Homo sapiens: one gene and its partner. The protein of the gene in region 2 interacts with the protein of the main gene of each other region in a biochemical or structural test. Each region holds a gene or a part of one and is shown on either strand. Other genes may lie near its edges. The genes, in order: GALNT14 and MUC13.

The links.
Region 1: of the proteins of MUC13 (region 2) and GALNT14, one has a biochemical effect on the other in vitro, tested with the Homo sapiens proteins (one study listed by BioGRID).

The regions. Positions count from the first base shown.
Region 1 is NC_000002.12:31,132,091-31,148,398, reverse strand, and holds the start of GALNT14 (polypeptide N-acetylgalactosaminyltransferase 14), read left to right. Parts: upstream 1-9,958; 5' UTR 9,959-10,312; coding exon 10,313-10,441; intron 10,442-15,752; exon of another isoform or gene 15,753-15,769; intron 15,770-16,308. UniProt on the Homo sapiens protein: Catalyzes the initial reaction in O-linked oligosaccharide biosynthesis, the transfer of an N-acetyl-D-galactosamine residue to a serine or threonine residue on the protein receptor.
Region 2 is NC_000003.12:124,930,831-124,947,347, forward strand, and holds the start of MUC13 (mucin-13 precursor), read right to left. Parts: upstream 3,922-16,517; 5' UTR 3,883-3,921; coding exon 3,831-3,882; intron 1-3,830. UniProt on the Homo sapiens protein: Epithelial and hemopoietic transmembrane mucin that may play a role in cell signaling.

The DNA of each region.
Region 1 (16,308 bases), on a different chromosome or scaffold from region 2:
AATGGGAGTAGTTAATGGAACTTATCCTTTACATTTAGGAGTTGTTGACTTTGCCAGGGATGTGCTCTTCCATTTTTGCAGTTTTCTTTTAAAGGAGTGAGGAAGAGGAGACCTGGGCTCCTGTATCTCTGTAGGGACTCACTCTTTTCTCTAATGAGCTGCCTTAAGACAGCATGCATCACAGGCAGACGCTCAGCATTCTGCTGTACTTGGCCATAGCAAGTGGTAAGACTTTTGTCAAATTCATGTCTTTCTCACCAATATTCTAATGTTGGGTATTTCCTTTATGACTCAATAAGCCCCTGTATAAATTTGCTACGGGGCCAAATTGAGATGAATGCAGAGTTTTAGTAAAGAAGTCAGAAATGTATTGAATGAAAGAAAGATCCAAATAGAAAGTCTCTTGGAGACCATTGATTTAGTTCTTCACTTGTCAGAAGAAGACATGAAAGTCCAGAGAGGTTTGCTCCAATGCCCCAAATCACATAGGCAGAGTTAGGAGCACAGAGAAAACCAGAATTCCGGTTTCAGACTCCCAGCCTAGTGTTGCTTCCATTACGCCAGTGTTGGAATCCAGCCGCCACTGTTAGCTACCTGGAAAACCTGGGCTGGTCTCAATAACCCTGGAGCCCAGTTTTATCATCACTCTATCTCCCTTAGGGTAGCATCGCTAAGAGCATCCAATAAAATTGTGACTGTTAAGTACCACGTAAATAGCCAAGCAATTTTCAAGTACAAAAAAAAATGAACTTCTTTTCAGTTACTGGAAAGACAAGCATTCTTCATTAGTTAGTCATGTACAGTAGCATTTTGTGAAGCATCACCTAACTGCATGTAAGATTTTAGGAATCTGGCCCTGGAAACTTTGCTGTTTTATTTTTTATTTTTTTCTCTTTTTAAGTTTCTTAAAAATTGGTGTTATATGATAATAGGACATTATTTTACATTCATTTAGGTGTGATAATGGTGCTGTGGTTATGTTGGTAGATGTTATTAATTTGGGGAATGCATGCTGAAGTACTTCTGGGTTGTTTAGGGTTATTATTTAAGTGTTATATATTATGACATCTGTAATTTACCTTTCAGTGGTTCAGCAATTATAAACCCATGCATATGTGGGCACGTACATATATATGGCAAAACATTAACTGTTTTTGAATCTAGGTATATTACATGTGTGGGTGTCGAATATACTATTGTTCTATTTTTCCATATGTTTGAAAATTTTTATAATAAAGTGGCCTGTAAAATAAATTCTTCCAGTGATACTGATTCTCTCTGTTTTGAGAACCACTGATGTAGAGCTATAGAACACGTGACCAGTGACAGTCTGTGAGTGGACTCTCCATGTGACTAATTATGACATGGGATTATCTATGCTCCTGGTTCCAGTTTAAGAAGAAAATAAGAGAAAATCTTTTAAATTTCCTCCTTGATGTCTCATCAGAATTGGAGCCGCTTTTCCTCTGCAATACTGGTAAGGTTCTATTTTCCTTTGCTTTGTTTTGACAGTCTGATTTGTCTGTTGCACTGAAATATTGAAACGGTACGCCATCTTTCCCATTTCCAGGGAGGCCTACAGGTGGAACTGATTGGACTTGAAGGTATTGATTAGATCAGTGGTTCCCAAACTTGGGTGCCTAGAGACATCATCCATAAAATTTCAGCAGGCTTAGGGTGAGGCAGTGGCATGTGACTCTTAGCAATAACAAGAGATAATTCTAATGTATATCTAGGTTTGAGACCCAGTGTTTTAAACTATGATGACAACAAAGTCAAGGTCATGGGTTTGGTTCCCAATTTAAGAGATATTTAGCTTTTCATGGAGAAAAGTTCCATTCCATAGTTACATTCTCTACACCATACTCTGTTCTACCATTTTAAAATACGGGTCCTGGTAGAAAAAAAATGAACCAGGAAAAAGAAAAAGGTTTTAGGAAAAAGAAAAGGAATTAGGGCAATTTACAACAATGACAACAACATATATATATATACATATATGCACAAAGTCATATATGTATGCACAAAATCATATATATATAAAAATATGATTTTTCCTTCTTGTTAGAATTTGGTATATTCTGTTACAGAGGTGGCTGCATATTATTGATGGGTGAAAAGAGGTTTTTATTCGTTGTTCTTTCATTACCAAATGTATCAACTACCTCAGGAATTTTGGATGAAAAGGTAAAAATGTTTTGTCAGCATCAGTGAATCGTGATAAAAATGAGTGATGTTTTTAATGAAAAACACTTGATGAACACTTACCAGGCAAGCATGAAAGGAGAAATTGAACCTCAGGAAACAGAAAAATGAACCCCCACTCACCAAACCATTTTTGTTATTAACACTTTCTGGGGCCTCTAAAAGAAAGGAAATGCTGTAAAGGAAAACAAGAGCAGCTCTCTGGCACGGCCTTGGTTTCTGCAGTAGGAATCAGCAGGATCCTTCACCGGCACACCATAAAGCAGCTTCCCTTGTTCTTATGTAATATGTCTTTGCAGCTTAAACCTTTAATTAACCAGAGATGTCATCAAGAAAAGTTTGCTAAGGAAGAGGATGCCTGGTTTAATTAAAAAGATCTTTAATAGTTATTAAGGAAATCAATTTGGAATTCAGGCCTGAGAGCAGTGATGGGGGAAGAAATCACTGAGAGGAACTTCTCCATCTCTCTGGGTAATGGATTTTAACCCTTTGATCTGATCTGCTTTACAATCCCCAGGGCAGTGGTCCAGGGCATGGAGAGGGATGCTTGTCACTCATCATTTTTAAATCTACATCCCAGATGTAAGAGAGCAGTTCTGCCTTACATGGCAGAAGCCCAACCTTTCTGGAATGCAGTTATCCTGGCAATTGAAAGAAATAGGAAACCTTTATAAATTGAAAATCTCCTACCTCATAAGTATAAGCTATTTTTTTCCCCAAAGAGATGCATTATTTCTCCCTGAGGATTTGCACTTGGACTGTACATCAGGCGTTTTCCCATTACTGCTCCAACTGGCCTTCTTCGGATCAAGCTAGAAAAAGGGATTTGGCTCTTTGGAGCATAAGAGAAATATTATTTTCACTTGTCTCATGAAAATGATGACACAAAAGGTGAAATAGCCAGAGGATGGGCAAAATAAATTGTCTGTGTGGCAAAAACTGTAAAAGGAAAAGAGTTTTTCTTTTAAAAAACAGCATTCTGCCAACAGGGGAATGATATTAATATCATCATCTGACGCAGCCCAGTTGAGTTCAAATGCTGAAAGCACTTCTCAAATAATCTATGTTTAATTAACATTTGCACAGCACTTAGAGAGGGAAACTGAAGACAGGTGCAGTGCAGAGCTGCAAAAACGACTTTCCTGTTGCAATGTAGCTATTTCTCAGGTGGACTGAAGCGCCTCTATCTAGGACTCAACATTACTCAACAGAAACCCAAGAGGAAGGACTAGATCTTTTAACACTCAAGGCTTTATTCAAATCACCAGCTTACATTTTCTAGAAGAGCTGGAACAGGCCTTATTTATTTGTATTCCTCACAGCAAATTGCCCAGAGTCTTGGTCACAGTGTCTTTGTTCATTGTTTTGCTCATTACCTAGAAACTTCTGGGCTTAGCAGCCTCCCCATCCCACCGTAGAAATGCCTCAGCTCCCTGATTCACTTGTCCTGTGAAACCTAGTGAGGGATGTCACTTGGGAGCAATGTTGGGTAATGCAGATATGTTATAGCCCACAGTTTACCAATGAACTCATCTTGCTGTAGGCAGTTCGTGCAATTTCTCTGGGCTCCACTTTTCTCAATCACAAAATGAGGAGTATTGAACTACATTAGAGTCTAAGGCCCCTCCTAATATAATCTGGTGTACTCTTTACCCTTTGTCCTAGCTTGGTAGATCTGTTCCCACATTAGAAGATGGAAACCAGGAAAACTTCAGTACTTATGGAAACACTGGTGGCTGGAGTAGAGGTTGCAAGCTGGCAAGCAGCAGGCTGGATTCAGACTGCAGACCTGTTTATTTAGCCCATCCAATGTTTTGGTGGGCTGGTGGTGGGGGTGATTGAATTAATCGATAACAGTTAAAATCCAGGAGGTTTCACATCGTCATCTGGACTTATGCTTTTGTTGAGGCTGGAAAACTCTGGCAACACTTTACTGGCACTGGCAATGATGAGTTGGAGCTGATTCCTTGCTAGTCCAGTGTGGGCCCCGCTACTCCCTACTGTGTCCTCAATATGAAGGTTGAATAGCAGTTTCATTGTTGTCATTGTGTTTATGCTATTTTTCCCCCAACCCTATCTCATTTCACTCATTCATGTTACTTTCATGGCCCATGTAGGTATGTGGGTGAGAGGAGGAGGTTGTTGGAAGAATGATTGGAGTCTGGTGTCAGGAATCCCTTGCCCTTCAAAGAGACAGTGTGCTGCTATCTGGCTGCTTCCATGAGCTGCAAAGTGGGTAAAACATCTTCAGTTGGGTGGATAGGATAAGACTGTCATTGACTGATATGCGCAACCTAATTACTTCCTTAGTTACTTAAAGCTGGCTTCATTTGTCCAAATTGTCTCTTCTTTGGATAAGCATCTTGACTATTGTTTACTTAGAATAATGCCCCACATGAACAGAGTATCCCAAGTTCAGCACACATACAAAACAACTTAAATAGCAAACCCACATTTTTACTCATCTAAGAAAAGCAATCTTCCTTCTAGAACCATCACCAGAAGTCCTCCTGTTGATTAGAGTGGCCTCTAATTTATTGTCTAAAATAGAAATTTCTTGAAAGTAAAATGAGGCAGTATAATAATTATGCCAGAAAAATCAGAATAAACCAGGAATTTCCCAAGCAAACTGGGGCATAAAGCCACCCTGCTCAATGTGCAATATCTGGTAGTGACTTGATGACAAAATCTGCTGTCGGTCACTAGAGATTATACTGGATTGTCCCAGGTCCACTCCTGGGGTATGCTTGGCTCCTCTTGCTGCTGAAGTCCTAGCCAGACTGGAGAGGCCCCATCACAGTTCTATTCCTTCTTGGATTTGAGCTCTCCTGCCCACTTCTACCTTTCACTGATGCCTCTAAGCTTAAGCCTAACAGGAAAGACTGTCTTTGTCAGAGATAATGCAAGTGGCTCTCAGATTTGGTTGTCTGAAATTGGGGACCTGGGGAGTGACATCTGTCCTTAGATCCTTCTATTTCTTCTGCCTGTGCTGCCCTCTGTCAGAGTCTCCTCTAGATAATTCAAGGGAAATAATTTTCTTTTTCTTTCTTTTCTATTTTTTTTTTTTTTTGATGATGGAGTTTTGCTCTTGTTGCACAGGCTGGAGTGCAATGGCGTGATTTCAGCTCACTGCAACCTCCGCTTCCCGGATTCAAGCCATCCTCCTGCCACAGCCTCCCGAGTAGCTGGATTACAGGTGCCTGCCACCATGCCCGGCTAATTTTGGTATTTTTTAAAAGAGACGGGGTTTCGCCATGTTGGTCAGGCTGGTCTCAAACTCCTGACCTCAAGTGATCTGCCCGCCTCGGCCTCCCAAAGTGCTGGGATTACAGGCGTGAGCCACTGTGCAGGTCTCTTTTACTTTTCTTTAGGCAAACTGGGTCACACCTTCATGCTAGAACTTTGCATATTCTATAGGGGCTGGGGGGGGGGTGGGGGAAATTTCTCAGATCACCACAGGGCACCATCACTGAAGATCAAACCACTTTACACAACCAGCAAAGACATATCATTGTAGCAGTATTAAGTTTTACACTTGGCATTTGGGTGAGAAACAAAGAAAGTTTGGGGCATTTCAAACAATAAAAGAAGCAGGCTTTTGAAATGCAAAGATATAGATCCCTTTCAAGGAATCGAATATAAGAATAAAAGGAGGGAGAGGAGTTGAGGGTAGTGGGCTGGTGAAAGGAGTTGTTTAATGGAAAGAGAAAGATCCAGAAAGGTGACTGTCAGATCCCTTAGATAAAGCCACCCATCTACCCGTCAAAGATGAGAGGAAAATCCAGCTGGCTTTATTCTTTTGACAAAGATTCACTGATGTGGCAGAAAGATGAGGTAAGGGGTTGGTAATAGCTCATCCTCATTCACCACGTGGTTTAAACTATTCCATCACTCACTCTATAAGAAAGCCTTGCAGGAAACCCAGGACATGCGGTTTTGACAGGATCTATAGTGGCAAGGAAAATGGAGAGGAACACAGAGGAAAGGGGAGCTGATGTATTATTTACAGTGGAGAACTTGAACAGAGTCAACTGCAGGAGTCAGCCCAAAGACTTGTATCTGTATGACTGTGGAATAAAGACAGACAGATCTTTGAATTTTCACTGCCGCTCTTTTTGCTGCTGGGCCAGCATGTGTGCGACTCATCTTCTCACTGTGCTGCAATCTGCCCTGCTACTGCTTACCTTTCCCTATGGCCCAGAAGAGGTAAAGACCTCAACAGAAACCTGTCTGGGCCTCTGTGGGTGAAATTTCGTTAGGTTGGCACAGAGGGTGTCTCGCTGATTGTGACAGGTCTAATAAGCGTGCAGATGGCAAGAAGCACACACACAGCCACTCGCGCACACACAGCCTCCCTGAAGTCATGCAGTGGGCAGAGAGGAGGGACTCAGAGAATCTGATCCAAAAGGAACAAAGGCTGCAGCCTCTGCAGTGGGCTGAGCGAGAATGATGGGGAGACGGCTACAGGAAACGAGAAGCGAAGTGTGAGAATCCACAGCAAAAGCCGCCACAGAGCATATGCATCGGACTTCACAGCTTCCTCCTGCTTCCAGCTTGCATTTGCTCCATATGCTGCTTTACACTGCTTTCCGGGCCATAATGGGTTTCATTCCATAGTTTTTATACTAACATGAATGACTCACATCTGCTCCAGTACCCAATTTGCTCTCTAATGTCTTCGGCTGTGAGGAGAGAACAGCTTACACAGAACTCGCCAACAACAGGAGTGGTAAAGAAGGTCCTGATCCAGGACAAGAAAGGTCAGAACCCTAAATGCGTCAGCTGGGAGGGTCTTTGAGAGAACATGACATTGCCGATGGGAAACCACAGACCCAGAGGAATGAGGAGCTTGGCTCAACAATATCAAGACTGAGGAGGTAGATCTGTTTTAGGAGATCCAGGAGAACCAGGAGAGTCCTAGTTCAGAGTGTATTTATTTTTTTTCATTTCCTGCCATGTTAAGTCTTTTGCTAGGAGCTTTTCCTCCCCATATTGGCTGTGATAAGAAAAAAGTAACTTGGATTAATCGCCAATGATAGCTAATCCCCCGCTGGGATCAACCATACTCTGCATTACTTAAGCTTGTTATTTTATTTATTCATTTTTTGAGACAGGGTCTCGCTCCATCACCCAGGCTGGAGTGCAGTGGTGAGATCATAGCTCGCTGCAGCCTCAAAATCCTGGGCTCAAGTAATCCTCCTGTCTTAGCCTCCCAATTGGCTGGGACTAGAGACACCTGCCACTTCGCCTGGCTATTTTGTTGTTGTTGTTGTTGTTTAGAGACAAGCTCTCGCTATGTTGCCCAGGCTTAAAGCTGGTTATTAAAGCGTTTCAAATATATTCCTGAGCATGGGGGACCCCTGGATAGACTGGGTTCCTGGAGAGACCTACAGAACTAGGCCCCGCATGGACACTCACTTCACTTCCAGATGTTTGAAGTCCCACTTGAAATCTACTTCAGTCCTAATGATATTTACTGGTTTGACAACCCAAACTGATATCTGATATGATCTCTGGATGGATCAGCTAATGACACCTAGCAAAACTGGATTCCCTTGACAGCTTCCATAGGCCCAGGAAATCTTCCTCACTTGAGTAGAGGACAAAATAATGATTTGAGAAGAAAATCATTCCTGGAAGGAAATTCCCACTCTCTGAGACATTGCAGTCCCTGCACGGAGCTGCCTTCACCCCAGGGCCTCAGTTTCCCCATATGCCAAACAGTCAGAATGAGGCACCTCAGCATCTCAGCAGTGTGGTGAGCAGCGTGGTGGTGCTGCACCATCTCAAAAGCTTGGCGGTGTTCTTGTGTAACTGTCTGCCATCTGTTACTCAGAAGCGGCATTACAAAGCGCTGAGCAATGGACTCCTGTGCTGCAGCTTCTGCCTGGAGCCAACAGCAGCTCAGCAGCTTGCCTGGGGGTCCCCTGCAGAGCCTGCAGCAGAACGCTTTGCAGGCCCGAAACTGCAGGTCCCGGGTGAGGCTCCTGAAAGAGGTCCAAGGTGCTTGGGATGCTGCAGAGGTGAGTTCTCTTGCTGCTCCCCCTACCCCTCCCATGATGATCATCTACCTGGGCCTTTGCTGGGACAAAGCATTGGCTGGGGAGCCTACTCCCACCTTTCAGTGTTCAGAGTTCTGATAAAGGCAAATGCTAGATCAACCCTGGGGTTCTGTGTGATGGTCTAAGAGCGCAGGTAGATCTTGAAAGGGCTGGCAACAGTGCTCACCTTTTCTGGGCTGTTTAATTTCAACTGCGGTTCCCAACCCCAAACATCTTATCTACAGTCCAGTCAAGAACTCTCTGAGGTTGAGGCAGGACTTCCCTGTGGCTGAAAGATAAGGTACCAAAAACAGGAGGCTTTGAGTAGACGCCTCCATTTCTCAGTACATGTCTTTGGGGAGACATCTTATTGAAGAAGGAATTCCAGAGCCCTGATTTACAGCTGTCTCACCTGTGCGGAGGTATGGGAGCTTGCCCTACACTGAGCTTTATGGGGAGAGAGGGGCAGGGAGAATGGTGGCTGCCACAGTGGGTGCATCGTTCTCACCTCCCCAAGAAACTCGATGAAGCAAGCAACCCTCCAACAAAAATGGCATGGTTCCCGCTGCCTCTGCTCCCCAGACAGAGCAAGGTTTCCCCACTTTGAGTGGTCAGATAACACCAGCACCTTGCATTCAGCTTTCACCACTACTCATTTGCTTGTCAGAGGAGGTATTTTCCCTCCATTTTACAGATGAGGAATCGAAGACTGGGAGAAGGTAAATGACTTACCCAAGACTCACACAGTGAGTGTGACAGCTAGGTCAGTACTCTCTGGTCAGTGATCTGGCCGTGATTCCAGCCTACTTGAGCCTACATGGGAATTGGAGTTAGAATTTGCTTTGCTTCTAGATCCAAGCGGTTTTAATCTGCAAGTGGGAGGGGGATACAATTCCCAAAGGCCCTTGGGAAAAGGGGCTTTTGAAAGATCACCCTCTGCACCCAGTATCCTCCTGCCCAGGGTCACTTTCCAAGAATCCCAAGTGGTTGTTCCAACTTTGGACCTCTTTTCTTGCAAGCACAAAGCCCTGATGCTTACAGGGAGAGAAAACCTTTATGGGAGATAATTGCGCCTTAATTTTTTAAAGGATATCTTTAAAGTTAAAATTAGACCAGCTCAGCTTTCCTTCCGTTAAGCAGAAAAAGTTACCAGGCACCTGCAGGCAGGCATAGAAACACCCTGGGGAGTTGGCTGACCGCGGCCTTGGCCCTCAGTAGCCAGGCAAGTGAACCGCGGGTTTGGGGCAGCAGCCCTGCCGGCGCCCTGGAATCCCAGCCTTGGCTGTGGTAGGACGAGCACATTGGGGGTGGGACCCCGGCTTCAGCGCCACGTGCAGCCCCCGCGATGAGCGGGAAAGTCCTCCCAGGCACAGCGCCGCCTGGCGAGGGCCGGCCCTTGGGTCCCAGCTGGCAGCTGGGGGTGGCGGGCATCCCGAGTGCACCGCTCCCGCCCCGCCCCGCCTTGCCCCAACCCACGATGGTCTGGGAGCTGCGCCCAGGGCTTGGCGCTGGCGGCCCCGCAACAGCACCGAGCGTTTCGGTCGGCGGGCGGCGGTAGCGCCCCCTCTCAGAGCCCCGCTCACTCCCACCTGGGCTCGCTCCGAGTCGGCCTGTCTGTCGGGCCCGCCCTCCCCGCTCACTCCCTCCGCCCTCGTGCTCCTCCCGGGGTGCTTGGCACAGCCTCGGATTCCTCCCTCTCGCTGCTCGAGTCAGTTTCCCTATCGGCGGCAGCGGGCAAGGCGGCGGCGGCGGCGGCGGCAGCCGCGGTGGCGGCGTGGGGAACATCTCGGCAGCCACCGCGCTTCTCCCGCTGGAGCGGGCGTCCAGCTTGGCTGCCCTCGGTCCTTCCCTGCCACGTTTCGGGTCGCCCTGCACCCCCCACCCAGGCTCGCTTCTCTTCGAAGCGGGAAGGGCGCCTTGCAGGATCCTGCCGCCCCTCCAACCGGATCCTGGGTCTAGAGCTCCCCAGAGCGAGGCGCTCGCCAGGACTCCTGCCCCGCCAACCCTGACCGCCGGGGGGTGCCCCCGGGACGTAGCGCCGCGGAGAGGAAGCGGCAAAGGGGACCATGCGGCGCCTGACTCGTCGGCTGGTTCTGCCAGTCTTCGGGGTGCTCTGGATCACGGTGCTGCTGTTCTTCTGGGTAACCAAGAGGAAGTTGGAGGTGCCGACGGGACCTGAAGTGCAGACCCCTAAGGTAGGCGGCTTGCCGGCGCGCTGGCGCTGAGCGGTGGCTTGCGGGAGGGCGCGCAGCCCGCGTGCCGGGTTTGCGGGCTCCCGGGAAACCAGGGCGAGGGTCTGGGTGCTGCGAGCAGGTAACAGCCGCCGGATGTGGCTACCATGTGATGTTTCTGGATTTTAAAACGCTCGGGGGCATCTCCGGACCCGCGGTGTGCATGAGTGGCAGTGGGTGTGGGTGGTGGGCGCGCGCTCGCCTGCGGAGCGGGGCTCCCAACTTGAGCTGCGCGCGAGGGTCCCGGGGCGGAGGGGGCTCTGCGGACGGGCGGCCCAGGGGCTGGCGGTCTCCGGGCGCTGCCAGAGAGTCGCCGGCGGTCGGGTCGGGCCAGCGCCCGGGCGAAGTGTGGCGGCTGCGCTGACCTCCTTCCCGCAGCTGCCAGGCCCGACCTGGGGAGGCCGGAGGCCGGGTGCGCCGCGCGCGCCTGTGCGTTGCGGGCGAGCGCCTTGCAGCCTCCCGGGCGGCTGCCACCCCTGTTCTCTAACTGTTCCCGACCCTCTCAGCTGCATTGGAAGTTGAATGTGCCCAGAACACCACGAAAGAGCCTGTAAAAACAGACGCCTTGGTATTGGCGGGGAGTTGAGGAAATGGGAATCCAAGTGGCTTTTCCAACTCCTGCTCAGTCAGTTCCTGTGAGGGAGCCAGAAGGTTCCCCCTATAGGCTCACTCTTACCTTCAGATTCAGAGCCCTGTAGGGGGAAAGGGAAAACTTCCCCATGGCTCTCCGAAGGTTCACTGAAAATCAGTTGACAAAAGGCAGATCAATAGGAGAAAAGGCATAATAATTTATTTGATCATAGTTTTTCGTGACATGGTAGCCTTCCGTTTTCTCTTCACAGATTTGGCCCGGGGACACGGAAGGAGGCCTCTGGGGGATTTCCTGGCCAGCCAGGCAGTCTTTATAAACTGGGTCCAGAACAGTCGTCTAGGGGTCTGGGCAAAAGCCTTGGAGGAGCTTATGGTCGGAAATGGGAGACTGAAAAACAGGAAGATGTGGGCGGGAGGTGGCGTCTCACCAGTTAAGTACAGTACAGAGGGCCTACTGTGTGCCAGGTGCATAGTAGGTGCCTTCCTCATAAGTAGTTGTAGGAGTTGGGTGGTAATATGCTTGTTTCATAGATCAGGAAAACAGGTTCAGGGTCTTTAAGTCACGTACCTTAAGTCGTTCTACTGGTTTGAACTCCAGCCTCCACGCTCAGGGTTTCCAGTATATCAAGTTGCCTCTCGGTTTCCCCTTTTTAACCAAGTCTTCTAGCACTTATGTTCTGGAATCTTGCCAATGCTTTGTCGATTTCAACAAGCATTTATTTAGCACCTATTGTGTGCTCAGGCAGTGTGTTAGGTGCTATGGGTAGAGAGAGATAGAATTTACTCTCTGGGGGGAGAGGAGTTCACTCATCATTGGACCAGGATGTGAGGTGTGCATAGGGCTAAGAGGGTTCAGTGCACTGGGTGTCATGGGAGCCTGAGGTCTCCCTGGAGGAGGAGGACATAACAGAGCTGAGCTGAGAAGGATAAACAGGTTTGTCAGTAGGTAGAAAGGGCATTCCAGGTAGAGGTTAACTGCATGAAACAGGCTCAGAGGAATGACACAGCACGTTGTGTGAGTTTGGCATAATTTGAGCACAAAGTATGTGGAGGTTGGAGGGATAAAGTTTAGGGAGGTGTGTAGGGGCTGGGTGGGGTAGAATCTTGTGGGTGTGAGGACTCTTGGAGAGGGTCAGGCAGTGAGGTGGCGAGGCCAGATTGATGACTTCAAACCACCTTTAATAGCACCAGATCACTTTTCTCACTCAGCCCCTGCCCATAGATCTGGAGAGCTTTTCTTCTTTTTCCCTAGGTGGTTCTGCTCCCTGTGATGTAGTTAATGATACCTGCAGGGACATGAACTTTCTCTGTTTTGCTTCGACCCTCATTACCTTAAGCTTGCTTATTCTTAGTTTACACCAGGGATCTGGGACAAGAGACCTGTTTCTTTCTTTGTGCACTCTTTGTCCCTCCTCCTCTCCTGCCTCTTCTTATCCTGGCGTGTGCTCAGCACACATCTATCACAGGCAGCTGTATGCCAGGCTCTGTGCTGGGTTTGGGGGCTGCTATGATGAGCACGCTGTGTCCCTGTCCTTTGGCATGGGGGTGGGGGGCCACATAAGTTGCAGGATGAGGCAGAATTACCAACAAATGAGTGGTACTTTAAGGTGGGGAGTGGTTTAGTAGCAGAAGTCAGGACATTGTACTGTGCAGTCACAAAAGAGGAGGTTTTCTAGTTTTGAACCAGTTGCTCTTTGTCTTAACATCTTGTTCCTTCTTTTCCTCATTTTCTGTATCCTTCTAGAACCATGAATTTTTATAGACTTAGAAAATCTTGACACCTCTTACTATTAGGTGTCTTCTTTTTTTTTTGTTAGTATTTTTCTTCTTCCTGTTTTTCCCTTGTATGTATGTCGCTCTGTATCTTAGTGTGTATGTACCTGAGAAGAGAGGAAGAAAGACAGAGACTCCTTAGGTAACGCCAGAACAGTTTTATTCCCTGTGACTTTGTATGACAAGTCCAAATTTATATGACATGTCCAAAGGAGCACAGTGGTACCGAAACCTGGCTGCATGTCAGAATCACCTGGTGAGCTCCATTAACATGCAGATTTTTGGGCTTACTACAGAGATTATGCCTCTGTGAGTTTGGGAGAAGGTTCTAGAATTACTGTTTTTACCAGGGTTGCATGTGATTCTGAAGCAGCCTATTGATGGGTGGCATTTGGGAGCTAGATGAAGAATACCAAGTCTGTTGATCGTGGTTTGGTTGGCTGCATGTAAATATGGTCAAATGATTTTCTTCTTGAGTGTGCTTATGGACCTAACCCATGTAAGCCTATGCATGCATGTTAAATAACAGCCACCAGCATTTCTATAGGGCTTTACAAATTCACAGACTCCATTTACATATATTAGTTCATTTAATACTCACAACTGCACAAGGGAGACAAGATAGTACTTTTATGCAGATGACATTAAGGAGGTGAAAAATTTGGCCCAAGCTAACCAAGCTGTCCAAGTGGCAGCATCAGGACAAGAATGGAATGGGATCCCTCCTGAAACTGCCCACTGCTTGCTTTTTCCATGCCGTTAAACCCAGAGACTGCCTGAATTGACAGCAGGAATTCCCCACCCGCTTCCCAGAGCTCCCTTGGCTCATCCCTAGATCCTCACCCTTGGAGAGCTCCCAGGGGGTTTGTGTAAGGGAGGTGCTAAGGCAGGAGCTACTGCGGAGGGACATCACCCCTGCCCTTGGAAGGCACCATGTGGGGCACAGGAGGCTCCCCTCACTGGATGGAGCACACCCTGATGAGGAGAGTCCCTGTGTTGGGTGGTTGCAGAGGCGTTGGTTTAGGAGGCCATTTGCCAGGGCAGAGATTGTTTCTTCAACAGTAGGAATTCGGATGGGACTTCCATCTATCATAGGGAAAAAAGTTGGTTTTTGAGTGAGTTCCGTGCTGTAGGTTTTCCTAGCGTGTAATCATGGGGACAGCTCTTTGCCTTGGACATGCTGAAGCCTTGGAGAGGTTTTCTTCCTGCTCAGGCCTCTAGGCATCTTCCCAGCATGGGTGAGGGAGTCAGCTTTTCTTCCAAAGCAAGAGGAGTGGGCTCCCTTCCTTTGAATGTATTCAGAGAAGTTGGGAAAGGTGTAGAGATTGGAGAGAGCTGTATTAAGGGCTCCTGGTCTGGGGAACTACCCGACCCTTAGATTCTGTGGAGCAGATTGCCTTCGGAGAGGCAGGTTCTGGTTCTGGGCCATCAGGCCCTTGTTCTCTTTTCCTCGTGGTCTTAGGAAATGTCTCCACTCACCTAGTGACAGGATCTCCAAAGAGGGCGGGATGAAATGAAATCTCTGGTCGCTGGGCCCCAGTGCAAGTGAAGTGAAGAAGGCATGCTACACTCCTGGCTTAAGGAAATTTATTAGACTTTTTTCTTAGTTTCAAGAAGGGCTGATTCTTTCTATTAATAGCTCAAGTAAAGAGTTCTTTAAATTTGACTTTTTAACGTTAATTTCATTCTTTTACTGCCTCCCCCCCAATTATCCAGCAAAGCTCTAATTTCTAACTGAAAAATCCTGTAACAAATTGAGTGTTTTAATTCAGACTGTATTTGAATGGTAAATACTATGCCACTTAAAAGTAGCTGAAAAATGTTTTAATTTCTTCTCTCCCTATCATTTGTTTGCCATTTGGAGAATCATACAATAACTGACTAAAATTTTAAAAATATCAGCAAATTTGTCTCTTATTTCTAAGAAACTAAATATAGTCCAGGTGTTTAGGGCTTAGTAAAAGCAAAAGAATTGTAGGCCTGAGGGTAATTTTCAAGGAAGGTATTGGAAATGTAAAGGCTTTGAATAAAATGCCTCTGGCCCATGTAAGTGTATTGGTGCTGTACTAGAAATACAACAAACACCATTAGAAAATAGCTTGTCTTTCTGTAACATTTGCATCCCACCAATGCCTTAAGTATATGACACTGTTATTTTATTCCTCATTTAGTAGATAATTTCTCTCATTAAAAAAAGTCATAAATTTTAGAGAGAGACCCTATTAATCTACTCATACTTGGTATGTGCATATTGGACTCTGTCCAGGGAATTTTGTAACTGTCCAACGGGTTCTTGTTGCCCGCTTCCTAGACAGAGCCAATGTATCAAGACAGGGGAATTGCAATAAAGAGTTTAATACACGCGGAGTGGCTGAATGGAAGACTGGAGTTTTATTATTACTCAAATCAGTCTCCCCGAAAATTCAGAGACTGGGTTTTTTTTTAAGGATAATCTGGCGGGTAGGGGGCCAGGGAGTGGGAAGTATTGATTGGTAGGGTTGGAGATGAGATCATGGGGAGTCAAAGCTGTCCTCTTCCTCTGAGTCAGTTCCTGGGTGGGGGCCACAAGACCAGATGGGCCAGTTTATCGATCTGGGTGGCGCTAGCTGATCCACCCAGTGTAGGATCTGAAAAATATCTCAAGCACCAATCTTAGGTTTCACAGTAGTGATGTTATCCCTAGGAGCAACTGGGGAGGTTTAGAATTTTGTGGCCTCCAGCTGCATGACTCCTAAACCATCATTTTTAATCTTATGGCTAATTCGTTAGTCCTACAAAGGCAGTCTGGCCCCCAGGCAAGATGGGGGTTTCTTTTGGCAAACGGCTGTTTTCATTTTTGTTTCAGGGTTCTTCCCAAAGTTAGTGCAGCCTACACCCAGGATTGAACAAAGACAGCTTGGAAGTTAGAAGCAAGATGGAGTCTGTTAGGTCAGTTCTCTTTCACTGTCAATTTTCTCATTGTTGTAATTTTTGCAAAGGCAATTTCAGTGTGACTCTGGCATGACCAGAAGTAGCCCATGATGAGATGCATGCTCATCCTTTCAGTTGCTGTGTGGGTGCCTGTACAAGGTGCTGTGCTTTCTTTCCATTCTAAGGCAGTTCCCAGGAGCAGGTGTCTGGGTGGTGGTACACAGCTGGCTCCTGCAGAGGCTCTTGTGAGTGACTGAGAAATATGCAAATGGCAGGTTGGGATCCCAGGTAGTCAAGAAATCATATGTGGTCACTTCTTAGATGTCAAGAAGCTTTTTCTAAAACAAAAACAAAAACAAAACCACTGAGCCTCTATCCCATGGGTATGGTGAGAAATTCACCGTGGGTCATTTTTGGCCTATTCTGGGTTGTCCCAAGGCCCGGAGTCCAGGCCTCTGGTTGTCAGCGCTGAGTCAGTGGCGGATGTGCTGTGTCCCAGCTTCCTTTCACTCTCCTAGCCCACTCTCTCCCCCAGGTCCCTGCAGGAGGCCCTGTCC
Region 2 (16,517 bases):
ATCAGATTCTGTGGAATAATGCAGTCCTAGTCTCTCAGAGAAAGCAAAAACAACCTGGGAAGTTTTGCCTGTTAAAGGCTCTTCAAATGTCACTGGCACATTTTTCATTTGTTTCAGTAAATGCTTGTGCGGGGGTTCTTGCAGTCAAGGTGCTATACAAGGCATAGGGGTGAGGAGGAACGTAAAGGTGTACAAGACACACTTCCTGCCCTTGGTTGCTCAGAATCTGAGATGGAACTCATGTTTGAAGTAGTGATTCCTTACACACACCTCCAAAATCCTTAACGTTACATTAAAAAGCAACTTTTTAAAAATTTTCAGGCCAGGAGCGGTGGCTCATGTCTGTAATCCCGGCACTTCGGGAGGCTGAGGTGGGTGGATCATGAGATCAAGAGATTGTGACCATCCTGGCCAACATGATGAAACCCTGTCTCTACTAAAAATACAAAAATTATCTGGGCATGGTGGCACACGCCTGTAGTCCCAACTACTTGGGAGGCTGAGACAGGAGAATTGGTTGAACCCAGGAGGCAGAGGTTGCAGCGAGCCAAGATCGTGACAACTGCACTCCAGCCTGGCAACAGAGCGAGACTCTGTCTCAAAAAAAAAAAAAAGCAACTTTTTAAAAATTTTCAGGCCAGGCGCGGTGGCTCATGCCTGTAATCCCAGCAGTTTGGGAGGCCGAGGCGGGCAGATCACCTGAGGTCAGGAGTTTGGGATCAGCCTGGCCAACATGATGAAACGCCATCTCTACCAAAAATGCAAAAATTAGCTGGGCGTGGTGGCAGGCACCTATAATCCCAGCCACTCGGGAAACTGAGGCAGGAGAATCACTTGAACCTGGGAGGCAGAGGTTGCAGTGAGCTGAGATAGTGCCATTGCACTCCAGCCTGGGCGACAAGAGCAAAACTCCATCTCAAAAAGTAATATAAGGCCAGGCGCGGTGGCTCACGCCTGTAATCCCAGAACTTTGGGAGGCCAAGGCGGGCGGATCATGAGGTCAGGAGTTCGAGAACAGCCTGGCCAATGTAGTGAAACCCCGTCTCTACTAAAAATACAAAAAAATTAGCCAGGTGTGGTAGTGAGCACCTGTAATCCCAGCTACTTGGGAAGCTGAGGCAGGAGAATTGCTTGAACCTGGCAGGCGGAGGTTGCAGTGAGCCAAGATGGCGCCATTGCACTCCAGCCTGGGCAACAAGAACAAAACTCTGTCTCAAAATAAATAAATAAATAATAAAATAAATATTTTTTTCAAAAGCAAACCTTAGTAGCCACAAAACTGTCAGTATTAATATATCTGGAGGTAGATGGGTGGGAAGTCAGATTGGATGCTCAATTTTTATTTCATATACATCTGTATTGTTTGGATTTGTTACAGTGGGTCTGCATTACTTGTATAACTTTTTTAAACAAAGAAGAGGAAATCAAAACCAAAGTTTGAAAATCAGATCCAGGCTGGGCGTGGTGGCTCACGCCTGTAATCCCAGCACTTTGGGAGGCCAAGGCAGGTGGATCTCCTGAGGTCAAGAGTCTGAGACCAGCCTAGCCAACATGGTGAAACCCCATCTCTACTAAAAATACAAAAATTAGCCAGGTGTGGTGGCAGGTGCCTGTAATCCCAGCTAGTCTGGAGGCTGAGGCAGGAGAATCGCTTGAACCTGGGAGGCGGAGGTTGCAGTAAGCAGAGATCGTGCCATTGCACTCCAGCCTGGGCGACAAGAGTGAAACTCGGTCTCAAAAAAAAAAAAAGAAAGAAAGAAAAGAAAATCAGATCCAAGTGCAGACATGACAAAAAGGGAAATCATTTATTAAGCCCCTATGTGCCAGGCAGTATCCCGGCACATCAGGCTCTTTGTCTCATTTAATCCTCTCAGTCACTCTTCAGTATAGGGATTTCCCCTCTATTGCTACACAGGAAGACACTGAGGGTCAGAGACACCCCACAGCTAATAAGTGGTGGCATGCCATCTGAATCCCTGCTTGCCCTACTTTTGCCCTTCCCCCTGGGTTCTCTGGGTCAAGAAACATCTCCATTCCCCTAAGGTCCCTTGAGCCTCAATGATTCCTGATTCCCTTAACTCTCTATTCATCTCCTTGTCCCCTCCCAGCCAACTTTCCCCTTTCTACCGCCCTTCTATTCTATTTTTAAAAAGTCAAGCCTTTTTTAACAGTGGCTCCTGAAAGTCATACAAGCCTCACCAATTCTTCCTTTGTCCTGAAGGCTTGGACCTAGCATCTGCCCCCAAGGTTGGCAGGAGAGATCTGGTGAGCCCTCCCCTCCTGTGCAGCTAGCCTTCTCCAACCTTCCAGCATTAAGAGCTTGAAACCAGCTCTCAAAAAACTCTAATCCTGATGCCATTCATTCCAGTTCTCTGAAAGGGCTTAATTTCTCTTCATACATCTGCCTTATCAAATACTTTCTTCCTTTCTGCAAGCAGCTTCTAGATTTCAACTCATTGAACCTGAAGGAAATAAAAATATTTCACCCCCAAATATAGCTCCATGATATAATGAGTATTTTAAATTAAAAACTCTTAGAGGTCAACAAGCGCTGTAAGGACTGATCCACCAAAGAAGAACTATTGCTCCTGTTCCCCTCCCTGTTATGTCATTATCCACTACAGGAAAGAAGACCGAGAAGGAAACCACCCCTGAGCTGACCCTTCATCAAGATAAGGACTGTCTCCAAGGATCTTTAAATTCCAAGGAGAATTATCTACAAGTTCATTTTTGTTCCCAGATCCAATTATTCTCCCTAATAATCATTTATTGCCCCTCAACAGAATTCCTCTTCTCCCTTCTTCCATAACTTGTTTTACCAAGATCCAAGCCCCCTTTCTTTCTGTAACCTCAAGATGGTGTATAAGCTTCTATACCTCATCAGGAAGTTGGGTGTTCATGCTGAAGGTTCCTGGGTACACACATTAAATACAGTTGTATGCCTTTTTTCCTATTAGTCCATCTACTTCATGCCAGTGATTTTTCTGCAAAATTTTAGGAAGCCAATTGGCCTCCACAACCCTCACCTCTCAACATACTGCTGACCTCACCCACATGTGGCCCATAGAACCCTTCCTAACTCAGAACAGAGAGTACATGTCTGAAGTCTAATCAACGTGACAATTACTCCCTATGGTTTAGCATTCTCAAATTCAAGTACATTTGTGAAAGGAGGCTTTTTGCTGTGGTCAGCTCTCTGATTATCATGAGAGGGGATCCAGAACGCTATAGTAGAGAACTGGGTCCTTGCAACCTACTTAGTCCTTCTTATCTGGCCTCAGGAACTCTCAAAGAGAAACCTCTGGTTTGCTGAGCCCCCAGATCTCACTCCATAGACCACTTCTTCCCCCCACCCCTACAAGATGGAGTCTCGCTCTGTCACTCCGTGTCATCTCAGCTCACTGCAACCTCCACTTCCCGAGTTCAAGCGATTCTTTCTGCCTCAGCCTCCTGAGTAGCTGAGACTACAGGTGCCCACCGCCACACCTGGCTAATTTTTTTGTATTTTTAGTAGAGATGGAGTTTCACCATGTTGGCCAGGGTGGTTTCAAACTCCTGACCTCAAGTGATCCATCTGCCTCGGCCTCCCATATTGCTGAGATTACAGGCGTGAGCCACCGCGCCCAGCCCACAGACCACTTTTGCTATTGCTCTATCTTCCCCATCACAGGATAAAATGTCTGTGTCTTTGAGCTGAGCTGGAGAGGAAACTTCATTTATAAAATAGACCATGTGCTGGGCTGGGAGAATTGGTAGCTATAGGCCTGCTGATTCTACCTCAAAGACAACATACATGATTGGAAGAATTAAAATGTAAAAATATTCCTTACCTGTGTTTACAGAAAGGAGAGCAAGAAGAGTAAGATGAATGATGGCTTTCATTTTAGCTGTTCTTGCTTGGTAATCTGAGGAGGAAATGATTTCCCTTCCTGGCTACCTTTCGTTTTAACTGTCTTTCGGGTACAAAGTCCAGTCATTAATTGACGTCAAACCACAGAAAGGCAATTATAGCTAGCATTTGGCCAAATACCATAGATCTCTTCCGAGCTTTTGAGATAGAAGAGGTGGAGCTGGCCTTACGAATCATTTTTCTGACTCAAAGCCCAAAATAAGTCAGGACATTCCAAATATCCTTGTGAGGTTGGTGGCACATGAGTTTGGTTAATCTCTTGATATCTCAAATGTCTCCAAGCCGCCATCTTTTAGGAGGTCACCATTCCATTAAACATTCAATAACAAACTGTGCTCTACTCACCCACATATGAGTGCAGGAAACCACTTTCCTCCAGCTGTAGTTCTGAGAATCCCTGAAGAGGACTTACATGTTTCCCAAAATTATTAGTTGCTTAACTTTTGTCACTGTATGCTGGGGACTACCATTCCGGGCCTCTCTGATGGTCATGTCTAGCAACTTTGTAATCACATCTCCAAGCTTCTGTGACTCTACCTGGATACAGCCCCCAATAAAGTTCCCAAGCACAATGGACATCACATCATGGCATTTAACCTAACTTTACTGAAGTCTTGTGGGTGACTGGTGTGTTGGGGAGTTGGCAATAAAGTACAGAAAAGAGAAAACTTAGAACAGCTGATTTGATCTCTCTGCTCCTGGCCACTCATTGGGCAGGCCCCACTTCTCAGTTCCCTTTCTCACCCTCTCTCTAGTTCCTCAGCCCCTCACCTCTCACCATGTGTCAGGAACCAGCTTTACTGCTTGGATTTGGGTCTTCTTAATCTAATTTTCCCTCCTTAAAGTCCAGGGCCCCAACTCTACTGTGTCTAGCCCCAGCCAGAGGAATATAAACTAATGATACCTTGTGAGTTGTGGCTAGAGTTTTGAGTTTAAGTTTTTTTTTTTTTTTTTTTTTTTTTTTGAGACAGAGTCTCACTCTGTCGCCCAGGCTGAAGTGCAGTGGCACGATCTCAGCTCACTGCAACCTCTGCCTCCAGGGCTCAAGTGATCCTCCTGCCTCAGTCACCCAAGTAGCTGGGATTACAGGCATACACCACAATGCTTGGCTGATTTTTGTATTTTCAGAAGAGATGGGGTTTTGTCATGTTGTCCAGGCTGGTCTCAAACTCTTAGACTCAAGCAATCCCCAACCACAGCCTCCCAAAGTGCTGTGATTACAAGCGTGTGCCACCATACCTGGCCTTTGGGTTTAAATTTTAACCCTGACCTTGATGAAAACAAAACATTTTTGTATGATCGCCCAGCAGATAAGCTGCTTATTGTCCTAGAGTCTCCATTCAAGAATAAGACAGGGGTTTGTTCTTACATGGCTGAGAGGTCCATTTAAACACTTTTTCCAAAGCAAAGACACTTCTAAGGCCCATTATGTTATGCTATTATTCTCAGCTTGAATAACTCCTGGCATCAGGATTTAAACAAAGGCTTGTTTTTCTTTTCTTTTTAAACTAGCTTTATTGAGCTATAATTTATGTCAATAAACTGTATCTATTTACAGTGTACAGTTCAACGAATTTTGATTGATGTATATACATGTGTAGCTACCGTTGCAACCAAGATACCGAGCATTCCCAACACACCCTTTGGGACTTTCCTCTTGTCCCTTTTTAGTGCTACATCCCCTATACTCCACCCCAACCCCAGGTAACCATTGATCTGCTTTCTGTCTCTATAAATTAGTCTGCATTTTCTAGCATTTTATGTAAATGGAATCATACAGATGTAGTTTTTTGTTTTGTTTTGTTTTTTGAGCCAGTTTCTTTCACTTATAACCATTTTGAGACTCATCCTTGCTGTGTGAATTCATAGTTTGTTTCTTCTTATATCTGAACACTATTCCACTGTATCAATGTACCATGGCGTGTTTGGTAATTCATCTGTCGATGGACATTTGAGTTGTTTCTAGTTTTGACTATTACAAACAAAAAGATTATAAATAAGGCCAGGTGTGGTGGTTCATACCTGTAATCCCAGCACTTTGGGAAGCTGAGGCAGGTGGATCACCTGAGATCAGGAGCTGGAGATCAGCCTGGCCAATGTGGCGAAACCTCATCTGTACTAAAAATACAAAAATTAGCCAGGCATGGTGGCAGGCACCTGTAACCCCAGCTACTCAGGAGGTTGAGGCAGGAGAATCCCTTGAACCCCGGAAGTATTATTTGCAGTGAGCCAAGATCACGTCACTGCACTCCAGCCTGGGCAACAGAGCGGGACTTCATCTCGAGAAAAAAAAAAAAGTTATAAGTATTCATGTACAAGTTTTTGTATGAACATACACTTTCATTTCTTTAGGGTAAATATTTAGAATGGAATGGCTGCATCACATGGTAGCTATATAACTTTTTAATAAATGGTCAAATGGTTTTCCTAAGTTGTTATGCCATTTTACATCAGCAATATATGAGAATTCCAGTTGTTCCCTATCCTTGCCAACACTTGGTATTGTCCGTCTTTATATTAGCTACCCTAAAGGGTATGTAGTGGCATCTCACTTTTGTTTTAATTTGCATCTCCTGATGACAAATGATGTTGAACATCATTTTATGTGCATATTAGTCACTCGTGTCTCTTCTTTTGTAAAGTACCTGTTCAAATAATTTGCACATTGTATCGTTGAATTGGTTTTCTTCTTGGTTTTTAATGGTAAAAGTTCTTTACATATGTATTGCAAATCTTTTCTCCTTTTCTGTCATTTTTATATGGCATTTTAAACTTACTATATTCACTTTATAAAAGCCTAACCAGGAATCTAGAAAAATTGAAAAAGTGGCCTGGGGTCACATAAGTAGCTGCAGGATCTCAAATGCAGGGTCTCAAATCCTGTCTCCTAAACTGGGAGAAGCCTATCACACCCCATCATGTCTTAGATTCAAGATATCAAGTGAGTAGCGCCCACAGTGCTCTATCACTAATGTCTACTGATGCCACCATATTACAACAGTGTCAATATTTCCATGGTTTTCTATATTACTTATCTGCTGAGCATAGAATGAAAAGTATAACCAGGAAGGCATGGAGTACTGCCAAGCATCTGGCTCCCTGACTCTTCCCTGGCCTTATCATCTGGAAAAATATGGGCAGCCAGAAAGTCAGGCAGTCCTCAAAGTATAAATCAGCAATCACCGGTATGCCCGCTCCTAAAGCATCCACACAGGACTTCAGTACTGCAGGATGACAGAGACAATACACAGAGCTTTCATGAGGGAAACTTCTTCTTCCTCAGGGCTGATGTTTCCTCACTAATGGAGGGAGTTTAATTCCTGAAACACTCCTGGCCTCTTGGCATGTCTTTATTCATTTTGCCCTAAAGGAAGAGTAGTGACTTATTTCAGAATAAACTGGGAATACTCACCTCAGATCCTGCAGTTTCCATTTGGGGAGATAACCTGGATTCAGGATTGTTGTGCCCAAGAAGGTAAGGATCCAGAAGGAGGGAGCCCTAAGCCACATTCTCAAAAATAAGCTTCTATAAAAGTAATATTTTGTCTCCATCTGTTGTACTCTGTGTTTTACTTCTCACAGAACTCAAAACCTGGATAGGAAAAAGGGTTGATATTTATTAGTATGAAATGGCTAAATTCTAAGTATTTATCTATAAGTCAAGAACACAGACTCCATTTTCCCACAGAAACAATGTTATATGTTGGTAACGTTGTCACCAAGTCAGCTAAAAAAAAAAAGCTGTTTACCCATAATTACCTGGTTGCAAAAGAACTATTGTTCAGGGTGAGCTTTTCAATAATTCTATTGACTATGCAGAGGAATGGGACATGCCCATTAATCTAAAGCAATATCCAGTTATTTAGGCATAAACTCAAGAGAGCTATATCAGAGCCATTTAGAATTAGAATTTGATCCATCAAGAGCCTCTCTAGCCAGGTGAGGTGGCTCACATCTGTAATCCCAGCACTTTGGGAGGCCAAAGTGGGAGGGTTGCTTGAGCCCAGGAGTTTGAGACCAGCCTAAGCAATATAGTGAGACCTTGTCTCTACAAAACAATTTTAAAATAATTATCTTAACATGGTAATGCATGCCTGTAGTACCAGATACTTGGGAGGCTGAGGCAGGAGGATCCCTTGAACCCTGGAGGCGGAGGTTGCAGTGATCCGAGATTGCACTGCTGCACCACGGCATGGGCGAGAGAGCGAGACCCTGTCTCAAACAAAAGAGCTCCTCTTTGGCTACTTTGATTCTGCAACACTGCAGTACCATGATAAGGCTCTAGAGGATCATTAAAACATAAAATTCTATCAAGATTAAATAGTTAGACCCAAAGATTATTTTCTGTCTATAGAACCAAATGTAAATACATGTTAAGCTCCTATCTCCTTCTCACTAATTCCAGCCCCTCAATAGAGGTGTGAGTATAGCCTTCCCAGAGTCACTACTACCATTTACGGATATCACATTTAGATACTACATGAAGCTGATCAGCATTTTCCTCTCTAATTCAGAAGACCATTCCCAGAGAAATGACTTGTGGAATGCAATATTCCCAACTCAAATGTCTAATTGATGACACATTGACAGAACCATTTCCACTCTTGCTTTTTATACCCTCTGAAATTAACTTTTCAGTGAATGGTTGCTTTACATGAGTAATGTTCAGGAGGGGGCTGTTCAGTCACTCCCAGGTACTCGAGGCATCTCTGCACATCCATCAGGTATCGAAGATGAAGCAGTGAACAAGATGATGAAGGTCTCTGCTCTCCTGAAGCTTCTGTGAGATCATGGGTAGTGGAGGTCGGCAAAAAAAGTAATTAAATACAATGATTTTAGAGAGTGGTCAATGCTCTGAAGAAAATAAAACACAACAATGGGATAGTGACTTGTGGGGTATGAGGTGCTACTTTAAATAGGATGGTCAGCAAAACCTTCTTGCAGGAGCTGATATCGGAACTGAGAGCTGCTATTGAAGGGAAGCCTGCCATATAAACATCAGAAAAAGGGCATTCCAGCTAGAAAAGTAGTAAGTGCAAAGGCCTGAGGCCAGAACAAGTCTGGTGTGTTTGAAGAGCACCATGATTTAGGAGGAGACTGGGGGGAGATGTTGTCAGAGAGGCAGGCTGGGGCCTGATCCTACAGGATCTTAGAGGCTGTGGAAAGGAATGTGGATTTTATTCTAAGCACAATGGCAGAAGCCATGGGAACATTTAAGCAGGAGAACGACAGGCCAGATCTTCCTTGGGGGCCTTATCTAAAGGAGCTGGTCTACTCGCCTGACCATCCCACCTCAGTTCGTTTCCTCCATAGCCCTCATCACAATATGTAATTACTTTGTCTCTTTGCTGGTTTAGCTACCTGTTGCCTAACTTCCATGAGAGTTTCTCTTCCCTGTCCACTCCTCTGTCTCCAGCATCCAGAACAGCTGGCACATGGCAGGTGCTCAGTAAAGATTTATGGAAGAAAGGAAGGAATGAATGAAGGCCGTCCGATTTGTTCTAGGTGCAGGGAACAGGGAATGCAAAGAAATAAGACACAGTTTGGGGTCTTCAGACCCACAGTGCATTCAGACAATTTATCTTCCAAAAGTTGGTTGTCATGATCAAATTATTCAAAAGAGAAAATATTATTAGTAAGTAAATATGTGGGGGAAGAATATTTAGCTTTTTACTCATCTTTTTTTGTTTGTTTGTTTGTTTTGAGAGGGAGTCTCGCTTTGTCACCCAGGCTGGAGTGCAGTGGCGCAATCTCGGCTCACTGCAAGCTCCGCCTCCTGGGTTCATGCCATTCTCCTGCCTCAGCCTCTCGAGTAGCTGGGATTACAGGCGCCCGCCACCACACCTGGCTAATTTTTTTATTTTTATTTTTTAGTAGAGATGGGGTTTCACCGTGTTAGCCAGGATGGTCTCAATGTCCTGACCTCGTGATCCACCCGCCTCGGCCTCCCAAAGCGCTGGGATCATAGGTGTGAGCCACTGTGCCCGGCCTTTACTCATCTTAAAGATGTTACAACTAAAACAAAAGTGAGATTATATTTTACCTCTTTTTTTTTATTTTAATTTTTTTTTTTTTGAGATGGAGTCTCACTGTGCCACCCAGGCTAGTGTGCAGTGGCATGATCTCTGCTCACTGCAACCTCCACCTACCAGGTTCAAGCAATTCTCCTGCCTCAGCCTACTGAGTAGCTGGGATTACAGGTGCACACCACCCCACCTGGCTAATTTTTGTATTTTTAGTAGAGATGGGTTTCACCAAATTGGCCAGGTTGGTCTCGAACTCCTGACCTCTAGTGACCCACCTGCCTCGGCCTCCCAAAGTGCTGGGATTACAGGTGTGAGCCACCACACTGGTGTAATATTTTACATCTTTTAAAAATGTGTACAATGATATATCCAACTCTGGTGGGGGTGCAAATAATTCAATATGCTTTACAATTGCTACGTTGTAATATGCTACAATTTGGCAACAGGTATTAAGAGCAATTTAAAAATGTTCTTGGCTGGGCATGATTTTGAGAGGCCAGTGTGGGAGGATCACTTAAGTCCATGAGTTTGAGACCAGCCTGGGCAATACAGTGAGACACCATCTCTACAAAAAATTAAAAAATTAGTCGAGCATGGTGTTGCATGCCTGTGGTCCCAGCTACTCAGGAGGCTGTGGTGGGAGGATTGCTTGAGCCTCATGAGCCGGTGGGAGGAGGTTGAGGCTGCAGTGAGCTGTGATTGTGCCATTGCACTGTAGCCTGGGTGACAGAGCCAGACCCTGTCTTAAAAAACAAACAAACAAACAAACAAAAAAGTTTTTACCCTGTGACTGAGAAATTTACTTCTGGAACTTTATCTTAAATAATTTCTTCAAAAAAATCTTTTTTTTAAGTTTTGTAGAGACGGGGGTCTTGAACTCTGGCCTCAAGCAATCTTCCTGCCTCGGCTTCCCGAAGTGCTGGGATTACAGGCGTGAGCCACAGTGCCTGGTCAAGGAATAATTTCAAATGAAGGGAAAATTATATGTACAGATATGTTTGCTGCAGTATTACATATATACAGTATAAATAATTGAAAACAACCTTACCCAACAACAGAGGTTTAAATGTGGTGACCACCCTTGATGAGAGGTAGGACTCTATCCACACACGGTACGATGCAGAAGACCGCAGCCGTGAGGGGAAGTGCTTATGGGGAAGTGCTTATTCTACTACAATAGAAGTTGAAGAGGCAGGATTCTCATTATATCTCTAATTATGTAAAAACCATGCCTCCATAATTTGCCTCCATAAAGATAAGCGCTGGCAGGAAACACGAACACATGAAAATGACTTGCTTTGTTGGGTGGCAGGACGGCGGTCGAGCACTCTCATGGCGACTTCCACTTCTTACACCCACGATGTAATGGGCTCAGAGAAAGGGTCAAGTACGAATGTATAGATTTTCTTTTTCTTTGAGAGACAGGGTCTCACTCTGTCGCCCAGGCTGCAGTGCAGTGGTGCAATCTCTGCTCACTGCAACCTCCGCCTAATCCTCCCACCTCAGACTTCCAAGTAGCTGGGACTACAGGCGTTGCAACCATCACGCCTGCCTAAATTTTGTATTTTTAATAGAGATGGGGTCTTACTATGTTGCCCAGGCTTGTCTTGAGCTCCTTAGCTCAAGGAGTCTGCCCGCCTTGGCCTCCCAAAGTGTTGGGATTACAGACGAGAGCCGCTGCGCCGAGCCATGTGTTTAACCACTGGAGATGTGTTCCAAAACACCTTGACCTTCAAAAGGAGCAGGCATTGGCTTTTTGAGTCTTGGCTTATAAAATTTCACAATTGCTTATCTACTCACCTCACTGAGTTTAGTCAGCTCTAAAAATAAATTTCACATCATGAGAGATTTTGTGGGCTTCTTATTTTGTTATTTTATTTCATTTTATTATCTTTTGGAATGAAACTCTTGGAGAAGTTCTATAAAGAGATTTTCCCCAGGAAGGAGTTTGATTTCTCACCCACTTCCTCCTCTACTCACCCATCAAGACTATGGGAGGTTTGACTGAGATCAGAAAGCTCTTGCGGTGGCCACAAATTGTAATTCAGATCTCTTCAGAGAGGAAGCGAGTGGTTCCAGAGATTAAAACATTGTCCTCAGAGATGCTAGCACCAGGCCTGGACTTGTTGCTCTGAGGAAAACTGAAAACAATGGGTGGGAGTAGGTTTGCCCCTCTTTGGGGTTTGTACCTCTCAGCCTTACCCAGTCCAGTTATTCCTAAAATGAGAGATGATACAACTAGGGCATCAGTCCTCAAAAATGTGTTCCCCAGACCAGCAGCACCAGCATGACCTGGAAACATTTTAGAAATGCATATTCTCAGGCCCCACCTAGGCCTACTGAATCAGCAATCTGTGTTTGTTTGTTTGTTTGTTTGTTTTGTTTTGAGATGGAGTTTCACTCTTGTTGCCCAGGATGGAGTGCAATGGCATGATCTCAGCTCACTGCAACCTCGGCCTCCCAGGTTCAAGTGATTCTCCTGCCTCAGCCTCCTGAGTAGCTGGGATTACAGGCATGTGCCACCACACCTGGATAATTTTTGTATTTTTAGTGTGACTCTGCTGGTGCTCAGCTCTGAGGACCACTGCCTTCGTGGCACACAAGATGATTTTAAGTGTCCATGGACACAGCGTTAGATAACAGTGATTCACTTGGAGGGGAAAGTTATGCCTTTTCAAATTTCAGTCATTCTGATTACACAATGAGAAAATCTCATGTATTGCTAAGATATCTTTAACTCTTCTCTAATAATTACATATTTCTCTTTGTGAGGAAGAGAGCTCAGGCCCCAGACACAGAGCCTTTGGCAACCAAACTCCTGGTAATCTAATAACACTTTATTTTTGTTTATGTTTCTTATGGCTATTTTCTATCCATGGCAAAGGAAACTAGTTTTTTTTTCTTCTAAATTTGGGGTGGTGATGTAAAGTTAATTTGCTTTTATTTATTTATCTATTTTCTGGAGACAGGGCCTTGCTCTATCACCCAAGCTGGAGAACAGTGGCACCGTCACAGCTCACTGCAGCCTCAAACTGCTGGGCTCAAGTGAGCCTCCCGCCTCAGCCTCCTGAGTAGCTGGAACTACAGGCATGTACCACCATGCTTGGCTAAATCAGAAAAAAATTTTTTTTTTTTTCATAGAGACAGGGTCTCAGCATCTTGCCCAAGCTCGTCTCAAACTCCTAGGCTCAAGTGATCCTCCATCTTGGCCTCCCAAAGCGCTGAGATTACAGGTGTGAACCACCACACCAAGCTGTAAAGTTTATTTTAAAATTAAGTTTGGCCTGGCACATTGGCTCATGACTATAATCCCAGAGCTTTGGAAGACCAGTGCAGGAGGATCACTTGAGGCCAGGAGTTTGAGACCAGCCTGGGCAAGATGGTGAGACCCCCATCTCTACAAAAAAGGTTATAAAAATTAGCCAAGCATGGTGGCACATGCCTGTAGTTCCAGTTACTCAGGAGTCTGAAGCAGTAGGGTCGCTTGAACCCAGGAGTTCAAGGCTGAGGCTGCAGTGAGCTATATCGTGCCACTGCACTCCAGCCTAGGTGACAGAGCCAGACAATGTCTCAAAAAAAAAAAAAGAAAAAGAAAAAGAAAATTCAGTTAATTATTTTTTTAAAAAAGGTCAATTTCAACAAAAATATGTAAGAAAGTGTAGTGATAATACATGATTTGTCAAAAATCATGAGGGAGGTACAAAACCGACAGGTTTGGAAAACACTGTGCTAGGGCACACCGTAGGGTGAATGGCAAGGAAGAGGGCCTTCGAAAGTGTGAGAGCAGAGAAGCAAACAGGTGAGTTAACTAAAAAAGAAATACACATTTTCTACCACATGAAAAATGTCACAACATGCTAATAAAAGAGAAAATTGAACAATGCCAGAGCTAGAGCTAAACTTATCAACTTTAATGCAATAGGAACCCATTCCTGGAAAGTCTCTCCGTGTAGCTGACAGTTCCGGGAGAACATAATGACATTTAGACAGACATGCAAAGCTTGAACTCAACTCACAACTATCTCCATAATCTTTAACTACACGTTCTATTTTATTGTTGTTGCTCCAAGTCACCTTTGCCAGAGGAAATCTTTGATTTGACTTTCTCAGAAACCTTTTACTTGATGGCAAATTTGCCTTTGACACATACTCATAAGCAATTTCCTAGAGATTGCTTTAGCCCTGGGAACCAATTAGATACCATGATGTTGAGGTTATTTAACTGGCAAAGATGAAGAGAATGGCAATGGTTGCTGTTGGCAATGATGTGTGGGAAACAGGCCTCAAACACAGCAGTAGGGAAGGTATTTAAACAGCCTTTGGAGGAGGGAAATTCAGCAATATGTATCACAGACCTTTAAAATGGATCTATCTCTTGATCAAGCAATTCCATTCTAGGAATTTATCCCAAGGAAATAGCCAGACATATGCTCAAATACATTTGTATAAATATATCATTATTTTTGTATTTTTTTGTGTTTTTTTGTTTTGTTTTGAGATGGAGTTTCGCTCTTGTTGCCCAGGCTGGAGTGCAGTGGCGTGATCTCAGCTCACCGCAACCTCCGCCTCCCGGGTTCAAGAAATTCTCCTGCCTCAGCCTCCCGAGTAGCTGGGATTACAGGCATGTGCCACCACACCCAGCTGATTTTGTATTTTTAGTAGAGACGGGGTTTCTCCATGTTGGTCAGGCTGGTCTCGAACTCCCAACCTCAGGTGATCCGCCCGCCTTGGCCTCTCAAAGTGTTGGGATTACAGGCGTGAGCCACCGCACCCGGTCTCATTATTGTTTTTCAAAGAAAAAAATTTAGTTTTTTTTTTTTTCAGAGATAAGGTCTCACCATGTTGCCCAGGCAGGTCTCAAACTCCTGGGCTCAAGTGATCCTCTTGCCTCAGCCTCCCAAAGTGCTGGGATTACAAGTGTGAGCCACCACACCCAGTAAAACTATATAAATGTCTAAAAGTTGTGGCTTGGTCAAGACAAATTTGGTGAGTTCATGAGAAGGGTCTTGTGTAGCCATTAAAACTCAGCTTATAGTTGATAACAAAGGAAACTTGCAACAATATGTTGAATTTAGGGTTTTTCCTTCATTCACCAAATACTTGAGAGTACCATGAGCACTATCAGGGACAGACACTGTTCTAGGCTCTGGAGATACAGCAATGAACTAGAGCCATCATTTCTGCAGCAAGAACTGTGCAGAGTACTTTTATAAAGGACACATTCAGGATATGGTGGGAGCATGTTTAACAGGAAAACCTCACCTTGAAACATTGTGATGTTCACCCAGTAAGAACAATACCCAGCAGGGGTAGGCATACAGTAGGCACTCAATAAATAGCCCTTGATTGAGTTTCTTTAGGGGCAAATATCCCAATCTCAGCACTACCCTGGTTAGCAGCTGCCATGCAGGTCAGGACCAGAAACCACCCTTCCCTCTGAGCTCCTGCCCTGATGCTGGGCCTGACTCCCTCATGAGGCTCCTTTCTTTACAGCAACTCCTCTCCAGAGGTCCTGGTTTCTCCTTTGCAATTTAGCCTTGGTCAGTGTTTGCATTTGTCTTAATACTGTTTGCAGAATTCAAGTCACCTCCCTTCGTCAGAAAGATCCTTTAGGGTCTCTATAAATCACTAGAAGGAGGGTGAGAGGTAAGAGGTGAGGCTGGGGCAATACTGTCTATGGAACTCTCCAGAAGGGATCACATCCTAATGCCTGCTGCGTAAATAACCTGCCCTGCAAATATTTACAGTGCCTTGAAAAATATCTCCATATTGCCAATAATGGCTTCTTAGAGGGTGACATAATATGTGGGTTTGTGAATTGAAAAACTAATTATTGGCCGGGCGTGGTAACTCACGCCTGTAATCCCAACACTTTGGGAGGCCAAGGCAGGTGGATCACTTGAGGCCAGGAGTTCGAGACCAACCTGGCCAACATGGCAAAACGCCATCTAAAAAAAAAGGAAAAGGAAAAGAAAGAACGAAGGAAAGAACGAAAGAAAGAAGGAAAGAAAGAAAGAAAAAGAAAGAAAGAAAGAAAGAAAAAGAAAGAAAGAAAGAAAGAAAGAGAAAGAAAGAAAGAAAGACTGGGCAGATGTGGTGGCACATGGCTGTAATCCCAGTTTCTTGGGAGGCTGAAGCACGAGAATCACTTGAACTCAGGAGGTGGAGGTTGCAGTGAGCCGAGATCGCGCCACAGCATTTCAGCCTGAAGGACAAAGTGAGACTCTGCCAAAAAAAAAAAAAAAAAAAAAAAAAAAAACAGAAAAAGAAAATAAAAACTAGTTACCAATAGGACGTAATCTCTGGGATTCTTTCCTACCTTGAAAAAAACTTACATTTTCAATGGAAATAACCTGAAGTTCTTACAGAGCTGAGCTCCTAGGGTGGTGTCCTCACATGGACCAAGCATGGAGTAGTATGAATGATTGCTTTCCCCATTGCCCCAACTTGGAGAATTAAGAGTGAGCTGGATACCATTTCATAGTCGCTAGAATAACCATCAACAAAAAAGGTAATTGCAAGTGTTGGTGGGTACGTGGAGAAATTGGAACTGTGATACACTGCTAGTGAGAATGTAAAAT